2 separate regions of the Homo sapiens genome follow, and region 1 is linked to region 2. The links come from fine-mapping of genetic effects on gene expression. Tissue or cell type: thyroid. Region 2 holds a variant in brackets; the other region holds the start of a gene. All regions are shown on one strand. Distances are from middle to middle.

What was found. PIP is the estimated chance that this variant, and not a neighbour inherited with it, causes the effect. A credible set is the group of variants that fine-mapping cannot tell apart.
Region 1: it holds the start of RDH13, and the variant in region 2 is the best candidate, but not a certain one, in a credible set for the expression of RDH13 in thyroid (GTEx, PIP 0.65).

The regions. Positions count from the first base shown.
Region 1 is chr19:55,062,150-55,064,907 of GRCh38, forward strand. RDH13 (retinol dehydrogenase 13) reads right to left here and starts at 999. Exons shown (of 7, transcript NM_001145971.2): 1 at 819-999. The coding sequence starts at 883. RefSeq lists an enhancer at 1-309.
Region 2 is chr19:55,007,217-55,009,974 of GRCh38, forward strand. All of the region lies in intron 2 of GP6-AS1 (GP6 antisense RNA 1), which reads left to right. Among named protein-coding and RNA genes, the nearest start is that of GP6-AS1, 2.4 kb to the left of the region's middle. The variant A/G (reference allele first, on the strand shown) is at 1,585.

The DNA of each region.
Region 1 (2,758 bases), 55 kb after region 2:
AGCGAGAACCTCTGACACGTGAGGTAATGTCGTCACACCTTCCGAGGATTAGGACGTGGACCCCTCTACGGAGTCACGACTCTGCCCACCACACCCATGTCCCACAGAGGCTAACGCTGGCAACAAGATAGTGTCCAGCAACAGGAGGCTGAGCAGGTAAACAGCACTGCACCCACAGGAGAGAAGGGCACCATGCAATACAGTGGCCACCAGCCACAGAGGCTAATTTTTAAGAAAGTTTAAATTAAGTAGGCTGGGCGAGGTGGCTCACGTCTGTAATCCCAGCACTTTGGAGGCCGAGGCAGGCGGATCACCTGAGGGCAGGTGTTTGAGACCAGCCTGGCCAACATGGCAAAACCCCGTCTCTGCGAAAAATACAAAAATTAGCCGGGCGTGGTGGCGCACGTGTGATCTCAGCTCCTGGGGACGCCAAGGTGGGAGGATCACCTGAGCCCAGGAGGTCAAGGCTGCAGTGAGCCAAGATCGCGCCACTGCACTCCAGCCTGGGCGACAGAGCCAGATTCTGCCTTTAAAAATAAACGAACAAATAAATAATACAAAACAACAAAATAAAGAGTTTAAAAGTCTGGAAGGAAAGCAACATTTACAAGGGCCCAGGCTCGCCCTTCCCTCCGAGTGACCTTGGGCCGGTGACCTGGCCGGCCAGAGCGCAGGTTTGCCCCACTCCGGGCGGGCACTGCGGGTCGGGAGCTACGGGGCCTGGACCCGGGTGCGAGGGGCGGGGGTCTCCGCCGCCTTCCCGGCCCCTGCGCTGGGGGCCCGCCTTGACCGCGCACGCGGGGCTAGAATGTACTCACTTGAGCAGCACGGCGGCGCCTGCTACCGTGCCCAGCGCCGACAGCGGCAGCAGGTAGCGGCTCATGCCGGGCCGGGGACAGGCGTCAGGCGTCAGGGGTCGGCGCGGAGCTTGCTGCACACCAGCCGCCTGGGTAGCTCCGAGGAAGAGCGCGCGACGCAGCCACAGGCGAGCGGAGGCGCAGGCGCGGCTGGGCCCGCGTCCGGAACTGGGCTGCGAGGGGCGGGGCGCGGGCGGAGGGGGCGGGGATCCTAGGGACGGGACCTATGAGCATCGGTCCTGAGCGCTGTCACAGCTGGGATTGGTGGTTTCAGGAGCCTGTGGGCGTGGCTAGTCCGGGGGCGGGGCCTATGGTTTGTTCGAATGACGTCACACTTGCCGCAGCGTATAAGGCGCTACGCAGTTCTGGAGTGAAATAGGTTCGAATCCCACCACTGTCAATTCCAGACTGTGACCCTCTGTGTGTCTTTCAACTATATCAGCCTATTCCCTCATCTGGAAATGTGTGTTTACCTTCTTCATAGACTTTTGGAGATAATTTGAGAATTTCCATGCACAGAAACAAGGATCTAGTAGCCTGTGGGTACCCAAGCTCCTGGGGTCCTGCAGGAGAAGGCGGCTGGGGGCCTGGACTCCTGGGTCTGAGGGAGGAGGGGCTGGGGGCCTGGACTCCTGGGTCCAAGGGAGGAGGGGCTGGGAGCATGGACTTCTGGGTCCGAGGGAGGAGGGCCGGGTGCCTGGACTGCTGAGTCTGAGGGAGGAGGGGCTGGGGGCCTGATTCATTCCCAAATTATCAGAATCTCATCCCCATGTCTGGCCCTGCACAGAGATATCTTCCCTGAACTCTGCCTGAACTACCTTTCTTAGATTGAGTATTGCACACACTCCTGCACTTACCTGTCCATGTTTGTCACCCCCACCAAACCGGGATGCACCTCTGGGCACCTGCTTCCCCTTGCACTGCTCACAGCGAGTGTATCTGATCACCACCTCCTACCCCTGACTGTGCCTGAGGTGCCAGGAGCAGACACCGCTGGAAACAGGGAAGAATTCAACCCAATCTAACTAGGAGTAAGTTTTCTTCCTCATCAGATGAACTGTCATCTTCTTATATGAGCCCTGCCATAATGGAGATTATACAGGCAGGAAGAGCTATTTTAAGACCTTAGTCAATGGCCGGGCACGGTGGCTCACGCCTGTAATCCCAGCACTTTGGGAGGCCGAGACAGATGGATCACGAGGTCAGGAGATTGATACCAGCCTGGCCAACATGGTGAAACCCTGTCTCTACTAAAAATACAAAAATTAGCTGGATGTGGTGGCACTCACCTGTAGTCCCAGCTACTCAGGAGGCCGAAGCAGGAGCATCACTTGAACTCGGGAGGTGGAGGTTGCAGTGAGCCGAGATTGCCCTACTGCATTCCAGCCTGGCGACAGAGTGAAATTCTGTCAAAAAAAAAAAAACCTTAGGCCTGTAGACCTTAAGCTCTCACCATCTCAAACGTATTAAACCAGTTACACAATGCCAAATGCTGTATAAGAGGCACTTGGAGGAGTCAAATTCATAGAGACAGAAAACAGAGTGGTGGCTGCAGGGGGCTGGAGATGAGATTGGGAAGTCACAGGATTTGTTTTTGTTTGTTTGTTTGTTTTGTTTTGTTTTTTGAGAGACAGTCTCACTGTGTCACCCAGGCTGGAGAGCAGTGGGCGATCTCAGCTCACTGCAACCTCTGCCTCCTAGGTTCAAGCGATTCTCCTGCCTCAGCCTCCCGAGTAGCTGGGGCTACAGGCACGTGTCACCACACCCGGCTAATTTTTGTATTTTTAGTAGAGACGGGGTTTCACCATGTTGGCCAGGTTGGTCTCAAACTCCTGACCTCAGGTGATCCACCTGCCTCGGCCACCCAAAGTGCTGGGATTACAGGCATGAGCCACCGCACC
Region 2 (2,758 bases):
CTTGGGCTCAGAGGCCTGACATTCCTGTCTTCTTATATTAATAAGAAAAATAAAATGAAATAGGGGTAAAGTGTTGGGACAGCAAAAATTTTTGGGGGTGGTATGGAGAGATAATGGGTGATGTTTCTCAAGGCTGCTTTGAGCAGGATTAGGGGCGGCGTGGGAACCTAAAGTGGGAGCGATTAAGCTGAAGGAAGATTTTGTGGTAAGGGGTGACATTGTGGGATTGTTAAAAGAAACATTTGTCATTTAGAATTATTGGTGATGGCCTGGATACAGTTTTGTATGAATTGAAAAACTAAAGGGAATAAGGAAAGGAGAAAAACAGGTATTAAAGGTCTAAGAATTGGGACGACTCAGGACATCTAATTAGAAAGTGCCTAAGGAGGTTCAGCATAGCCTTGCCAGCAAAGATTATTTATTTATTTTAAGAGTTAACAGTGGCGGTATGGGGATAGTACCAGGAGATACCAGCTGTGCTGGCTTGGAGAAACAGTGTAAACTGGCAGTGTAAACAAGAGCAGGGCATGTGTGAGTAGTTGAGAACGGTGAATAGGAGTATGACTAGACAGAAGATAGTAGGGATGACAAGTTTTTTGGGGCACAATCTAAGTTGGTCTGGTGTCTGGAATGAGACTGGGGCCTAATAAAAAGGAGTGTCTACACAGGAGCTTAAATGGGCTGTATCTTGTAGCATTCCAAGGACAGGCCTGAATTCTGGAAGCGAAAATGGTAAAAGTATTGTCCAGTCCTTTTTAAGTTGGTGGCTGAGCTTGGTGAGGTGTGTTTTTAATAGACCATTAGTCTGTCACTGAATACTAAGAGCCTGAAAAAATGCTTGGCTGATTTGACTAATAAAGGCTGGTCTGTTAGCAGACTGTATAGAGGTGGGAAGGCTGAACTGAGGAATTTTGTCTGACAGAAGGGAATGACAAGGCTAAACTGAAGAATTATGTCTGACAGAAGGGAAGAAATGACTGCGGTGGCCTTCTCAGACCCTGTAGGAAAGGACTGTACTTACCCAGTGAAAGTGTCTACCTAGACTAAGAGGTATTTTAGTTATCTTACTCGGGGCATGTTGAGTAAAGCTAATTTGCCAGTCCTGGGCGGGGGCAAATCCTTGAGCTTGATGTGTAGGGAAGGGAGGGGGCCTGAATAATCCATGAGGAGTAGTAGAATAGCTGATGCAACACTGAGAAGTGATTTCTTTGAGGATAGATTTCCACAATGGAAAGGAAATGAGAGGTTCTAAGAGGCTGGCTAGTGGCTTGTACCATAGCATAGCCTGCCTTTGCTGGTGTGTGGCGATTAGGCCTGGTGGAACCGCCATCAATAAACTAAGTGTGATCAGGGTGAGAAACAGGGAAGAAGGAAATGTGGGGAAATGGGGTGAACGTCAGGTGGATCAGAGAGATGCAGTCATGGGGGTCAGGTGTGGTATCTGGAATAATGTGGGAGGCCAGATTGAAGTCCGGGCCAGGAACAATGGTAATTGTGGGACTTAACAAAGAGTGAGTACAGCTGAAGGAGCCAGGGAGCAGAAAGTATATGCATCAGGTGTGAGTAAGAAAATAGATTTTGGAA[A/G]TTATGAGAGCTGTAGAGAGTGAGTTGAGCATAGTTTGTGATTTTGAGGGCCTCTAAAAGTATTAAAGCAGCGGCAGCCACAGCACGCAGATATGAGGGCTAGGCTAAAACAGTAAGGTCAAGTTGTTTGGACAGAAAGGCTACAGGGTGTGGTCCTGGCTCTTGTGTAAGAGTTCTGACCGCGCTAACCATGCCTAGGAAGGAAAGGAGTTGTTGTTTTGTAGAAGGTGCTGGGGCTTGAGAGATCAGTCAGACACGATCAGCAGGGAGAGCACGTGTGTTTTTATGAGAATTATGCCGAGATAGGTAACAGATGAGGATGAACTTTGGGCTTGACTGAAGTAATGGGGGCTGTCTGTGAAACCTTGCAGCAGTACAGCCCAGGTAATTTGCTGAGCCTAATGGGTGTCAGGGTCAGTCCAAGTGAAAGCGAAGAGAGGCTGGGACGAGGGGTGCAGGGGAATAGTGAAAAAAGCATCTTTAAGATCAAGCATGGAATAGTGAGTTGTGGAGGAAGGTATTGAGGACAAAAGAGTGTAGGGGTTGGGCACCACAGGGTGCATAGGCAAAACAATTTGATAAGGCGCAGATCCTGAACTAATCTGTAAGACTTTTCCGGTTTTTGGACAGGTAAAATGGGGGAATTGTAAGGAGAGTTTATAGGTTTTAGAAGCCCATGCTATAGCAGGCGAGTGATAACAGGCTTTAATCCTTTTAAAGTGTGCTGTGGGATGGGATATTGGCATTGAGCAGGGTAAGGGTGATTAGGTTTTAATGGGATGGTAACGGGTATGTGATCAGTTGCCAGGGAAGGAGTAGAGATGTCCCATACTTGTGGGTTAAGGTGGGGGAATAGGAGAGGAAGACGCGAAGGAGGCTTTGGGTTGAGGAGAAGGGTGGCAATGAGATGCGGCTGTAGTCCAGGAATAGTCAGGGAAGCAGATAATTTGGTTAAAATATCTCGGCCTAATAAGGGAACTGGGCAGGTGGGGATAACTAAAAAAGAGTGCATAAAAGAGTGTTGTCCAAGTTGGCACCAGAGTGGGGGAGTTTTCAGGGGTTTAGAAGCCTGGCCGTCAATACCCACAACAGTTATGGAGGCAAGAGAAACAGGCCCTTGAAAAGAAGGTAATGTGGAGTGGGTAGCCTCCGTATTGACTAAGGCGACGGACTT